Linked DNA regions of Homo sapiens. Each later gene encodes a partner of the first gene's protein in a complex. Each region holds a gene or a part of one and is shown in the gene's direction. Other genes may lie near its edges.

Region 1 (7,447 bases):
CAGTGGCTCATACCTGTAATCCCAGCACTTTGGGAGGCCAAGGTGGGCAGACAGCTTGAGTACAGAAGTCGAGACCAGCCTAAGGAACATAGGAAAACCCTGTCTCTACAAAAAATACCAAAATTAGCTGGGCATGGTGGCGTGCGCCTGTGGTCCCAGGAACTCAGGGGCTGAGGTGGGAGAATTACTTGAGCCCAGGAGATGGAGGTTGCAGTGAGTCGAGATCACCCCACTGCACTCCAACCTGGGCAACACAGTGAGACTCTCTCTCAAAAAAAAAAAAGGAGAGGTGAACCAGCCTGGACATTGCCCGAGACACTGATCTAAAAGGGTGCTAAAATCTCACTGGAAATGTAACTTGAAAAAAAATGTATAGTGAAAACATACCATAAGCTTCCATTTGCATAGCATTCAAAATAGGGTGTAGGGGATGAGGAAATGGCAGCCTAGGAGGAAAACAGCTGCGGTTATAAAACGGCAACAGGAAGGATCCTTGGAAATGTTCCATATCTTGACTGTAGTGATGGCCACACAAAGCCACACACGTGAACTAAATACACACGTGCATGTGCGCGCACACACACACACACACACACACACCCTACAAAGGAGTACATGTAGAACTGCCTAAATCTGAGTAAGGTGGAATGATTGTATGAATGTCAATTTGCTCGTTTTTATATTGTACTATGCTACATGGAGAAAGACTAGGTGAAGAGTATACGGGATCTTTATTACTTAGTACAACTACATGTAAATCTACAATTGTCACAAAATAAGAATGTTTAACAATAGGTAAATTTTATGATATTTAAACTAAATCTCAATAAAACTGTTAAAGCTGACTGAGATGGCATATGCCTGTAGTCCCAGCTACTTGGGAGGCTGAGGTGGGAGAATCCCTTGAACTCAGGAGTTTGAGATCGGTCCAGGCCAAATAAACAGACCTCTGTCTTAAAATAAATAAAATTTTCAAAAAGTAAATAAAACTGTTAAAAAAAAAAAAAAAGTAATGAGTCCAGCCACACGGGAGCATATCATGATTGTTCTAAGTTAGTGCTTCTCAGTGGAAGCGGGACACTGAGAAAATGGGTGTTTTTGTTTGTCACCATCATGGGGCACTTTTGGGATTCAATGAATGTTAGATTGCCTGCATTCCACACTATAGAATTACACAACAAAGAATCAAACAAGGGCCAGGCCCGGTGGCTCACGCCTGTAATCCCAGCACTTTGGGAAGCTGAGATGGGCGGATCACGAGGTCAGGAGTTCAAGACCAGCCTGGCCAACATGGTAAAACCCTGTCTCTACTAAAAATATAAAACTTAGCTGGGCATGATGGCACGTGCCTGTATTCCCAGCTACTCAGGAGGCTGAGGCAGGAGAATTGCTTGAACCGGGACCCGAGGGGCGGAGGTTGCAGTGAGCCAAGATCATGTCACTGCACTCCAGCCTGGGCTACAGAGCAAGACTCCGTCTCAAAAAAAAAAAGAATCAAACAAGACCCATACTGTCAGATATTCAAGTACATTAAACATACACACAAACATAAAAACAGTAACAACAAATTTGTTTATAATTATCTGAGCCTAGAGTTTAACCCCATATACAAGTAAAAACAAAAGTAATTTGTGTATGGTTTTAATATATACGGAATTTTCTAGGAATACAACTATTGCATAAAAAAAGCAAAGGTTTTTTTTTTTTGTTTTGAACTTTATCAAGAGTTATTCACCATTTCAGAAAATCACAATAGTGACAACACTTCCAATATTTAAGTCACTAACATATTTTCATTAGTCTTTAGAGGCCATTCATGATATATATGTACATTTTATACATATGTGCATTTACCATATATGCATTCATAATATATATTTATGCATGATATGTATGTATATATTGAATCCTTATTTTGCAATGTCAGACATAAAAAGTGTTGACCATATTCAGCTGAATATTATCTTTTTTTTTTTGAGACGAAGTCTTGCATTGTTGCCCAGGCTGGAGTTCAGTGGTGAAATCTCGGCTCACTGCAAGCTCCGCCTCCTGGGTTCACGCCATTCTCCTGCCTCAGCCTCCCGAGTAGCTGGGGCTACAGGCGCCTGCCACCACGCCCGGGTAATTTTTTGTACTTTTAGTAGAGACGGGGTTTCACCGTGTTAGCCAGGATGATCTCCCATCTCCTGACCTCGTGATCCGCCCGCCTCAGCCTCCCGAAGTGCTGGGATTACAGGCGTGAGCCACCGCCCCGGCCTTATCTTTTTTTGAGACAGGGTTTCATTCTGTCTCCCAGGTTGGAGTGCAGTGGCACAATCATAGCTCACTGTAATCTTGAATTTCTGGGCTCAAGTGATCCTCCTGCCTCTGTCTCACGGTAGCTGGTACTACAGGCATGCACCACTATGTCTGGCTAACTCTTTAAGTTTTTGTAGAGACAGGGTCTCACCATGTTGCCCAGGCTAGTCTCAAACTCCTAGCATCAAGCGATCCTGCAGCTTTGGCTTCCCAAAGTGCTGGGATTACAAGCTTGAGCTACCAACTGTGCCTGGCCCAGTCGAATATTATATGTCCTGTAAAACCAAACTCATTCGTTATAAATAGATACAAGCATCTGACTACTCAATTTTGTCATCTAATATAGACATGCCTGTGCAGCTACGTATTATAATACATATTATTTTCTAATAAATTACTTTCCTATTTTTCTCCTTTATATTACAGTTAGGTCATTAAGTAGATTATTTATCGTGTATGTAGATTATATTACCTATGAATTTCATGCTGGGATTGTAAAGGAGATGTTACAAAATATAGCAAGGTGAATAAAGGAAATATATTGGAGTTTGGGTTGACAGGGCTTGGATCAATGATTAAAGGGAGTGGATGAAGGAGTCAGGTATAATGTGTTGATTTCTGGCTTGGGCAACCAGGTGGATGGTGGCGCCATTCGCTAATACAGGCAATACAAAAGGAATAGTAGGTTTAAGGAGGGAAATGACGAGTTCAGTTTTGGAGATTTTTAGTTTGAGGTGCCTTGGGATGTGGAGGCATCCCATGGGTACTAGGATATACACCTCCGGGTTTAGGAGATAGGCTCAGGTCACAGGCAGACTGGGAAGCATCAACATATTAACTAATAACTGAAGTCAAAGGAAGTGTGAGATGGGCCAGGGAAAATGGACAGAGGGAGGAGGTACAAGGCCAGAGCCCTGGGACACATTTAATGTCCAATATATTTTTTTTTGAGACAGGGTCTTGCTGTGTTGCTCAGGCTGGAGTGCAGTGGTGCAATCATGGCTCACCACAGCCTCAATCTCCTGGGCCCAAGTGATCCTCCCACCTCAGCCTCCTGAGTAGCTGAGACTACAGGTGCATGCCACCACACTCAGCTAATTTTTAAATTTTTTTTGTAGAGATAGGGTCTCACTACGTTGCTGTGTTTGGTCTTGAACTTTTCAGCTCAAGCCATCCTCCCACTTTGGCCTCCTAAAGTGCTGGAATTACAGGCATGAGCTACTGTGCCCATCAAGTGCCCAGTACATTTAAAAGCTGGGCGGAGGAAGAGGTCTGCAGAGGAGCCTGAGATCAAGCACCCTTAGGAGAAGAAACAAAAGTAGAGTCTGAAGTCACAGAAGCTGATGGAAGAGTATTTTTCAACAATGGGAGAGAACCAGTCAAGATTGAGATATGTGAGATTAGAAAGTGGAGTTATAGCTGGCCTTGGCTAAAGGCATTTCTGGGAGTGGAAGCCAGACTGGAAGAGGATAAGAAGTGGGTGGGGGAGAGCCGAGTATGAGCGACTCTTTCTGGTAAGTTGCTGCGACAGGAGATAATGCTGGGTAGGTGGAGAACACAGGGACCGGAGGAGCTGAGGCGGAAGGATGGAGAGGCTTAAGCATGTGTTAACTGCCACTGGGAAGAAGTCGGCAATCACGGAAGCTACCGGAGGGTAAGAAAAAATTCATTCATTCAACAGTTGAGCGCCTCCCACGCGCCCGATCAGTATGGCCGCCCCCACTTGAAAACACGCGTGTGGGCCGCCCACGTCTGACAAGTTAATGCAAGGCTTTATAGTTAGGGGAAAGCGGTTCTCCTTGAGCTCTTTCTCCTAGCAGTTCCGATTCCGACCCTGACTCCAACAGACACCTTGCGGGAACGCAAACACCGCTCGAATTCATGACCCCAATAGAAAACTTAAGGCCGCAACTAAGTAACGGATCGCTGCGAAGGCCAAACTAGCCACGCCAACGCCCCCACTGGAGCCTCCCCAGCGCTCCGCCCCCGCTCGCGAGAACAGCGGCGACGGCGCGAGAAATCGCTTTCTGGTTAGCTCCGCCCCTTCCCTTTCTTTGTTTTCCTGTCCGACGATCTCGCGGGAGTTAGGCGACAAATCCCGCGAGCGCAGACCCGGGGCTGGCTCTGCTGCTCTCGCGATATTTGCGCGAGCCTGCTTCCTTCTTTCCTCCCTTGCCAGTCCGCCTGTCTTCCTCCCCGTCTTCCCTGCCCGGCCTCCCCCTTCTTCCCCCGCTGGCCCCCTCCCCGGAGGGATAATATGGTCTCCGGCGATGGACGCCCCAAAAGCAGGTCAGTTTCGGGCCTCCGAGCTGGGTCTGGCAGTTGGAAACGCGCGCTGCCTAGGCGCCGAATTCCTTGCTTTTCTCGCCTGGAGTCGCTCGGCAGGCGCCCAGGCCCTCGGGGCTCGGGTTGTGCTCCCCTCGGGGCCTGCCTGCTGGGCCGCCCTTTGAGCCTAGGCCGCGGAAGCTGGGGCTCCCGATCCCCACCCTCCTGCGCGACACCCGCAGGGCGGGCCACCCCACCGCTGGCCTTGACCCGCACCCCTCTCTCTCCGGTGGCCGCTGCCTGCTGCCAGCGGCTTCCTGGCCCCCGTCAGCAACACCAGGGGCAGGGAGAGGCCCACCGTCTTCTCCTGCCCGCCCCCCATTGGCGAGCGATGAAGGCGGGGGCCTGCGTCTCCGTGTTCGGGTCTCACGCAGCTAGATGTTGATTCCACGGTCCAGCCTAAGGCCCCTCAGTCTCTCTGTGCCTCTGGAAGCCGAATGAGGGGCAGTCAAGGTTGAACATTGGTCAGTCAGTTCTCCGACCATTTATTGCACCGCTGTCTCCTCCCCCGTCCACCTCCCTCTACAAAAAAAAAAAAAGAGAAAAAAATACTATTCATTCTGAAAATGGGCTGTGCTTATGTTTTCTCCTTTTGGATGAAAGCCTTAACAATGTTGAGGGTCCTGGCCACCCACCGCTATGAGTCTGCACAAAAGATCTGAAGGTTCTTTTCAACCTCAGGGCTGCCTCCCCGCCACTGCCCCCTAGAATGTTGGGAGCTGAGGCACGTTTAAATGAGACCTCTGGATCTTTGACTTAGTAGTTCAGCTTCAGTTCGTGCAAAACCAGAAGACTTGTCTCTTTCGGGTAGAATATGCTAATTTCCTAGAGATTCTGTTACTTTTATTTTCAGTACTAAGCCCTGGTAAGGACTTAACTGAGAAGTTTTTTTGTTTTGGTTTATTGAATGCTCTGTAAAAATCCGTCTTTTAGTTTTTTTTTTTAATCAGTCCCTCTAATGTTAATTGTGGAATTCACAAATTCCTGTCTCTGCAGTTTTCAAGACATGTCTTTCCAAAACGTCCCCGTGGATTATTTAAATCATTCTTATTGTCCCTTTCCAGGTATTCTTATCACATTTCAGGAGTGAATTATCTTACTAGTTTTTACTTGACAAATTATGGTTTAGAACTATGCTTTCCAGTGTGGTGGATACTAGCCCTGTGTGACTTTAAATTAATCAAAATTAAATAAATTAAAAATTCAGTTCCTCAGGCACGATAGCCACATTTCAGGTGCTCAATAGCCACACGTTGCTAATGGCTACTTTACTGGACAGCTCAAACATAGAATATTTTTACCATTGCAGAAAATTCTATTGGATAAAGCTAGTTTCCAGGTATTTTCAGCTGAATAAAATATTTTGTTGCTGCATTTAATGAAAATACAATTTTTTTTTCAGGATACGCCTTTGAGTACCTTATTGAAACATTAAATGACAGTTCACATAAGAAGTTCTTCGATGTATCTAAACTTGGCACCAAGTATGGTAATGTTGCTTTACATTTTCTTGGGTTTGTTTAGTCTCTAATAATGAAAATGCATTTGTCAAGCTGAGCTGAAGAAATTTTAAATGTATTTCCACCGTATTGTAACAGGTACACCTACACATACCTATACCATTTTAAAAACTCCTCCTGGGACAACTTCTGTTCAGGGAAGATGTAGGCCCACACCTTAACTTCTCATTTAAAAATCTAAGTTAATTAAGCACTAGTTTTTCCCCTCAAAGAAACCAATAATGCAGTTTTCAAACTTTTTTTTTTCTTGTTTTTGTGAAGACAGGGGTCTTGCTATGTTACCCAGGCTAGTTTTGAACCCCTGGGCCCAAATAATCCTCCCACCTCTGCCTCCCCAAGTTTTGGGATTACACATGTAAGCTACTGCGCCTGGCCTAATGTGATTTTTAGAAGAACCTGACTGACTGATGATAATTCTACACCAATTAAATGTATATTTTATTTTCTCTTTTCTTTTCTTTTTTTTTTTGAGACAGAGTCTTGCTCTGTTGCCCAGGCTAGAGCACAGTGTTGTGATCATAGCTCATACAGCCTTGAACTCCTGGGCTAAAGCAGTCCTGCCTCTGCCTCCCAAGTAACAAGGCCTACAGGTGTATGCCAACACATTTATATAAAAACATATTTTTATATTTTTTGTAGAGTTGGGGTCTTGCTGTGTTGCCCAGACTAGTCTCAGACTCCTGACCTTAAGTGATGCATCTGCCTCAGCCTCACAAAGTATTGGGATTGCAGGCCTGAGCCACTATGCCTGGCCTGTTTTACTTTGTCAAATGAACAGTGCCCACATCTATTCTTTTTGCCATCTGTTGAATAGGAATCACCAACAGGACCCATTGATTTGAATTTTTCTGAAGTATTGGGCATGGTTTGCCCCAACCTACACACCTGCAGTTTTGGCAGACATTCTCATTGACCTTATCAGGGTCAAACCTTTCTCTGTGGTCTCAGAAGAGTGAATGTGGGCGACCTATAGGGCATTGAATGGAAGTTTTGACTTTACTAACAGTTGAGTAACTTTCTCAATTGGGCCAATAGAGAGACCTCTTTAGAAGACTCATTATTCTTTGTGAACTTTTCCATGACAATGACATGAAAAGATAAATTGAATGCCACATCTGTTGCAGTCAGTTTTGGAAGGAGCTTTAATCTTGTTTTTTCTTGCATTATTTAATTAAGACGATTGTTCTTGTGATTTTTCTGTAGATTTTGAGGAATTTAAATATTCTTGACTGCTATGTGCAATATTTTTTGTGTATTGTGAAATACAGCTATTTTGGAGTATCTTAAAGAATCCCCATTTTAGA
Region 2 (6,504 bases), on another chromosome or scaffold:
TGAAGCATGATTTGGGGGAATGGAAAGCCTTTAAAATTTACAGGGTGACTTGTTAAATAACTTGTGTCTGAGTTCCACATAGGTTGTTCTTAAAGCAATGCTCTCTCATAGTCTTTTCCTTAAAAGGATATGTGGACAACCTAGAAAGTGTTAGAAAGAAGTTGTGTTGTATCCAGTTTTGCAAGATGACACTTGTTCCAGTATCTTTCAAAACAGCTCAGCTTGTACAGTAGATATCTAGTGAATGCTCAGGGGCATCCTTGTTACTATTTTTATTATTTCTGAAAGTAGTGTGTTTTAATACGTGGTATTAGAGCAATGGAGAAGTGTATTTAGGTGACAAATTATATTTCAAATATTTGAAAGTGACGTTTAGCTAAAAATATATTTTTTAAAAGAAAACATATATAGTTAACTATCAGGTTACTAAATGTAAAAGAAGTTAATACTGATAAACATTAGTCATTAAGTAATACATGATAAGTAAAGCAGAATGATCTATTTTCCAAGCATTAGCAGAGATTTTGGAGATAATAAGTTAGTTATCATATATTCAAACAGTGCCCAGTACAGTGCAAGACACTGTACATAAAGTGTCTTGATATAAAATGCAAGTCTAGATTCTTCTGAATGATTCTTTATGACTTTTAAATTTATTTGATAAGATTTGAAAAGTCTTCTTAGCCATAACATTAAAAAATTTCTTTAACATTTAAGAAGTGTTAAATGGAATAGCATAGTTGTAGAGCTGTGAAGAACATTTGAGCAATGATAGCAAATAAACTTTTTTACTGATTTGCATTTCAATGTATGTATAATTTATAAATTAAGATAGATTAGCTCATAGTTTTGGAGGTGACACAGTCTCAGATGATGTGCTCTTTTATGTTTCTAATTTAAGTTAAAGAGGAATTAAAGGTAAGTGAAGGTAAGTGCAGATATACAGCATAAGTAATATACTTAGAACTCAGTAAAAACAAGTTATTCAATAATAAAAGTCTGGAGAAATAATAGCTAACCTTATACTTCCTATCATCTGATACTTAAAAATGCTTTCTTATAAGATTATTCTTTACCACGCATTTAAATATTTTAATGATTATTCAATTATATTTTTCTATTTTCTTTATTATTCCTTAATGTAATTTAGGCTTTATATATCTTAACCATTTGGGTTCTGTGTCCTACATCGAGATGGAAGTTTGCTGGTGATAAGTCAAATATTTAAAGGGAACTACCTTGTGAATTATCTTCGTCTGTTAAAGCATAGCTGTCTACCTGGCAATCCATCATATCTTAGTCATATTTCTTTCTAGTTTTCCCTCACCTTTTCTGTTGTCCATTTATTCTGTTGTCCATTTATTCACTTCTCTGAACAGTCCTTCTGTGTTACTTAAGGATTTTATTGTTAATGTTGCTTATACTTTCCATGCTTTGGAAGGTGTTAGTCTCCTGTTTTCTACAATGTGATACTGAGTTTAAAACAGTGCTTGTCTTCATTTTTGTTTTGGCTCAGGCCTTCAGCAGATCCTTTAATGGGTGCTGTCACTTTCATGATTATTGGGATCAAATACCAGTAACTACTCTTATTATTTACCTTATCATAGGATTGTAGTTTTGAGTCATTTAATACTATAGTTACTGATTAAGTTCATATAGCCTTCTTTAAACAGATTCTGCTTTCAAATTTGAAAACAATATATTCTCTCTCTTCACTCTGTATACTTAGAATCTCACTGAAACTCAATTCTGGTGAACTTAAAATGTATTCAGAGTTCTTGCCTATATTCATATAAAATGTGTCTACTCACTGAGTAGACACATTTTATATGAATATAGGCAGGAACTTTGTTTTGTGATAAATAAGGAGATGCTGACAGTAGGTTTGTGCTTTTTACCTAATACAGGGTAAAAACTTTTATTTCTACATTTTTCTTCCCCCATTATCTCTGCCACCATCCCTTAGACTTCAGGAGCATAATGACCCAGGTAGCTAGGGTGGAAACTGAGCATGTGGACCCTACATCTTTTGGGGAGGGTGGTGAAAAACTGTGTCATGTCAGGTTAGATCTGAATCTCTAGGAGAATAGCTTTTTTGATCTGTTTGCTCCTTTGAGTCTCCCTTTTACTTTATCCTTTGAAAACCAATTGCATACTTCACTTCCATTGCTTCCAGATATGGCATATTTTTCTTAGGCTACTGTTGAAATTTAGCATAATATTTCTCCCTTACCTTTCTGTCCTTTTAAAAAAATAGGACTATAGTAAGTCCTCCGTGTCGGTGGTATGTTTTTGGAAACTGACTTTAAAGAAAACATACAGGAAGTCCTCAAATAGTGTCATTTCATTATAATGATGCAAACAAAACAACTACCTTTGTTATACGTTATTTTGCTTAGAGTCGCAGTTTCTAAGAACCTATCGATGTTAAGTGAGGACTTAATGGTATAGACATTTTGAAATATTTGAGGGAGTTGCAGTTTGGAAAAATTGTATAGAGTCTTCATGTCTCTTCTTATTTCTTTAAAAAAATTTAGAATGGAATTTTAATCTGATAAAATGATAATCAGATCCATTTTGGCAAAACCCAGTGAATCTGGCATTTCATGATGGACCTAAGGGTCAGAGCAGGAGAATGGCAGTGAGGCAGGGCTTGTGTCTTGAGGAGAGGCACTAGGTGATTGGTAGACAAAACAGTGGGCAGTGTAAGGGGTGAGGAAAGACAAGCTAAGAAGGGGAATAATGGGGATTGGGTGGTGCACAGTGGGTAAAGCTGGCATTATATTCAAAGGAAAAACTTGGTTAAAGATTGGCAGTGGGAGAAGAATTTCAGATCATAGGGTTGCTTCTCAGGGCATTTTTAATAAGTATTCAATATATACTAAAACATTTTATCTTGAGTTTGTGATTAAGATGATTAACATTGTTTCTTATTTTAAGGGAAAATAATTTTAACAAAATGCTGCTTTGTGAATTTTAAATATTTAACATATTTAACTTCTCATTTAAAGACCAGAAAAGATTGTTATTTTGATTAAATAAAAATTGGCTTTAGTAATTCAACTTTATATTTAAAATAATTTTAAACTTCCTGTTATGGAAAAATTTAACATCGAATAATACAACGAATCCTCATGTACCATCAGCTTCAGCAGTTATAAACCTGTGGGCAGTCTCCTTTCATCTATACCATTGCTCATTCCCATATCTACTCCGCCATTAAGCTAATCACAGGTGTCATATCAACTTAAAAATTAATATGACTGAAAGCATAAGCTGTTGTAGTTCCACATATTTGCGTAATGTTTATTAGTTTCTTTCCTAAGACTGTATGTCTTAAGAAATTTGCCCTTTGTATTTTGTATGTGCCATTTGGGGAATATAAGGAAAAGTTAAATTTCTGGAAATTAATGTGTTCTATGTGTTTAGTTGGAAGTAATTGTTATGGTAGTATTAGCTTACTTGCTTTTTTGTTGTTGTTGTTGCAGCCGAGTGCTGTTTTAGAAAATAAAAAGTAAATTTAAAATGTGTTTTTGAGTTAAGCTAGATATCACCCCAGAGTACTGTGATTTTTCAGTTACAATCCATTTGATATATTCTGCAGTAAAATTATATTTCATGTACAGTTTTCATTTTGTATTGTTCCTTATATCACAATTGCAAGTATTTTGGTTGTTCTTGTTGATATGTAAAGAACAAATTAACTACTCCTTATTTGTTCATGGTATAGACATAATGAAAGACTTCAATATAGTTGAAACAATCTTTTCCACATTTGCCTGCTTTTATGAAAATATCATTCATTCAGAGTACTTGACATTTGAATATGTGCTGTGAAACTTCTTCTTTGATATTTTCTAATTCTCAGCTATGTTCCCTAATGGGTCTTGTATCTAGTGCCTGGGTAGCATAGTGTGACTGGGATAAAATGTCAGTTATTCCACAGATTTTTTTTTATTCTTTGTAAGTGAATGATAATTTTTACTATGGCTACAGTTTAATTGATCACTCATTATATATTTAATTTTGGAAAATAATTTCATCTAACCCTACCATATATAGATATTTTTGGCTACAAATACTAAATAAAAATATGGCAAATATATTAAATCTTTGTCTATATAGTTTATTTTGCTTTAAAATTTGAAGATAATATTTATTGTAATTGCTCAATACTGACTTCTTTAGCTGATCGATTATAGTTAGGGCTGTTTTTTGCCTTTATTACATTTCTAGGGAGGATGTTCAGATTATAAGAATCTTTTTATAAGTTAGCTTGGCAATCTTGCTTCTGTGGATTGTCTCATTTCCATTTTGGATTTTTATATTGTAAGTTGTTGCTAAAAATTATTTTTTTCCCTTCTTCCACTTACCTTTTGGACCATGAAGGATATATTAATTAAAGTCAAGCTGCTATTGAGTTTTGTGTCTGAATAATTTCTTATACACTTATCATGAGATTTACTTCTATCATATAAGTACTGCTAGTAAAACCAATGAATGTTTAACTCCTTCATAAGCAAAATTATTTTTATGTGATCTCTAAGAAATTCCTCCTTTCACATTTTTCTGTTTTCATACAGGTCCTCATGCTGATACCGCCAGTGGATGCCAGAATTTGCAGTGTGGTTTTCGAGCCTGCTGCCGCTCTGGCGAATGACCCTTGACTTCTGATCTTTGTCTACTTCATTTAGCTGAGCAGGCTTTCTTTCATGCACTTTACTCATAGCACATTTCTTGTGTTAACCATCCCTTTTTGAGCGTGACTTGTTTTGGCCCCATTTCTTACAACTTCAGAAATCTTAATTTACCAGTGAATTGTAATGTTGTTTCTCTTGCAAATTATACTTTTGGTTTAGAAAGGGATTAGGTCTTTTCAAAAGGGTGAGAACAGTCTTACATTTTTCTTTTAAATGAAATGCTTTAAAGAATGTTGGTAATGCCATGTCATTTAAAGTATTTCATAGATAATTTTGAGTTTTAAAGTCCATGGAGGTGATTGGTTCTCTTTACACATTAACACTGTACCAAGCTTTGCAGATCTTTTCCGACACACATGTCTGAAGACTTATTTTCAAAGACAGCACATTTTTGGAAACTAATCTCTTTTCCGTAATATTTCCTTTATTTCAATGATTCTCAGAAGGCCAATTCAAACAAACCCACATTTAAGGTTCTTTAGGATTATAGAATAAATTGGCTTCTGAGTGTTAGCTCAGTGAGCTAGGAAAGCACCAATCGATATTTGTTTCCTTTAGGGATACTTTGTTCTCACCACTGTCCCTATGTCATCAAATTTGGGAGAGATTTTTTAAAATACCACAATCATTTGAAGAAATGTATAAATAAAATCTACTTTGAGGACTTTACCAAGTAATACTGTTGTGTTGTGATTTTTATTATAAATCTCAATCCAGGTTTACTTTAGTATAGAATAGGACTACATACTTTGTCTTTGGACCTCCCATGAACTTATTACCCTGACAAATAGTTTTAGACAGATACTGAATTTTATTGAGCTGAATTTTCTTTTTGAAATGAGTTATTCAGTAGTCAAAATTTGAATCCGTAAGTATATCTACTTTGCTTTGTTAAAACATCATGAGAGTGGAGGCCTGCCACCCAGAAAGGCACATACTAGTGCCTTTTAGTACAATTTTATGTCATGTAGAAGAAAATGGCAATGTTCCTCCTATTGATACAGATACAGGCATATGTCATCTTATTGCGTTTTGCTTTATTGCACTTTGCAAATAATGCATTTTTTACAAATGGAAGGTTTATGGCAACTCTGCGTTGAGCCAGTCTATTGGTGCCATGTTTCCAATAAAACTTCTCCTTTCATGTCTCGTATATTGTGATAATTCTTGGAGTATTTCATAGTTTTTCACTATTATTAAATCTGTTGTGGTGATCTGTGGCCAGTGATTGTTGTTACTATTGTAATTGCTTTGGAATGCCATGAACTGTGCCCTAATAAGACAGAGAACTTAATTGATAAATATTATGTATGTTCTGATTGCTCCACTGACCAGTGGTTCCTGTCTCTCTCCTCCTCAGACCTCCCTCTTCCTAGAGACACAACAATATTGAAATTAGGCCCCAGCTTATAACCTTGCAGTGGACTTTAAGTGTTGAAGTGAAAGGAAGAGTCATGTCTCTCACTTTAAGTGAAAAGCTAGAAATGATTAGGCTTAGTGAGCAAGGCATGTCGAAAACTTAGGCCCAAATCTACGCTTCTTGTGCCATACAGCAAAGTTGTGAATGCAACAGGAAAGTTCTTGAAGGAAATTAAAAGTGCTACTCCAGTGAACACCCAATGATAAGAAAGTGAAACAGCTTTATTACTGATATGGAGAAAGTTTTAGTGGTCTGGATAAATGAAACTAGCCATAAAATTCCCTTAAGCCAAAGCCTAATTCAGAGTAAGACCCTAACTCTCTTCAATTACATGAAGGCTGAGAGAAGTGAGGAAGCTTCAGAAAAGGTTGAAGCTAGCAGGGG

What was found. Proteins that work in one complex are often made in the same cells at the same time.
Region 2: the proteins of IREB2 (region 1) and FBXL5 are in contact, whole or in part, in a cryo-EM structure (PDB 6VCD), measured with the Homo sapiens proteins. Residues at the interface, in NP_004127.2 of Homo sapiens: Asp89, Phe90, Ser129, Asn217, Val220, Glu221, Arg224, Arg228, Ala758, Gly759, Ser760, Arg763, Asn764, Thr777, Pro778, Arg779, Asn782, Ser783, Tyr784, Gly785, Ala786, Arg788; in NP_036293.1 of Homo sapiens: Asp656, Glu657, Tyr661, Cys662, Asp663, Asn664, Ile665, His669 (codon at 4,589), Ala670 (codon at 4,592), Asp671 (codon at 4,595), Thr672 (codon at 4,598), Ala673 (codon at 4,601), Ser674 (codon at 4,604), Gly675 (codon at 4,607), Cys676 (codon at 4,610), Gln677 (codon at 4,613), Asn678 (codon at 4,616), Leu679 (codon at 4,619), Gln680 (codon at 4,622), Cys687 (codon at 4,643), Arg688 (codon at 4,646), Ser689 (codon at 4,649), Gly690 (codon at 4,652), Glu691 (codon at 4,655).

The regions. Positions count from the first base shown.
Region 1 is NC_000015.10:78,433,770-78,441,216, forward strand, and holds the start of IREB2 (iron-responsive element-binding protein 2), read left to right. Parts: upstream 1-4,446; 5' UTR 4,447-4,568; coding exon 4,569-4,587; intron 4,588-4,651; exon of another isoform or gene 4,652-5,087; intron 5,088-6,025; coding exon 6,026-6,112; intron 6,113-7,447. UniProt on the Homo sapiens protein: RNA-binding protein that binds to iron-responsive elements (IRES), which are stem-loop structures found in the 5'-UTR of ferritin, and delta aminolevulinic acid synthase mRNAs, and in the 3'-UTR of transferrin receptor mRNA.
Region 2 is NC_000004.12:15,603,879-15,610,382, reverse strand, and holds the end of FBXL5 (F-box/LRR-repeat protein 5), read left to right. Parts: intron 1-4,583; coding exon 4,584-4,660; 3' UTR 4,661-6,002; downstream 6,003-6,504.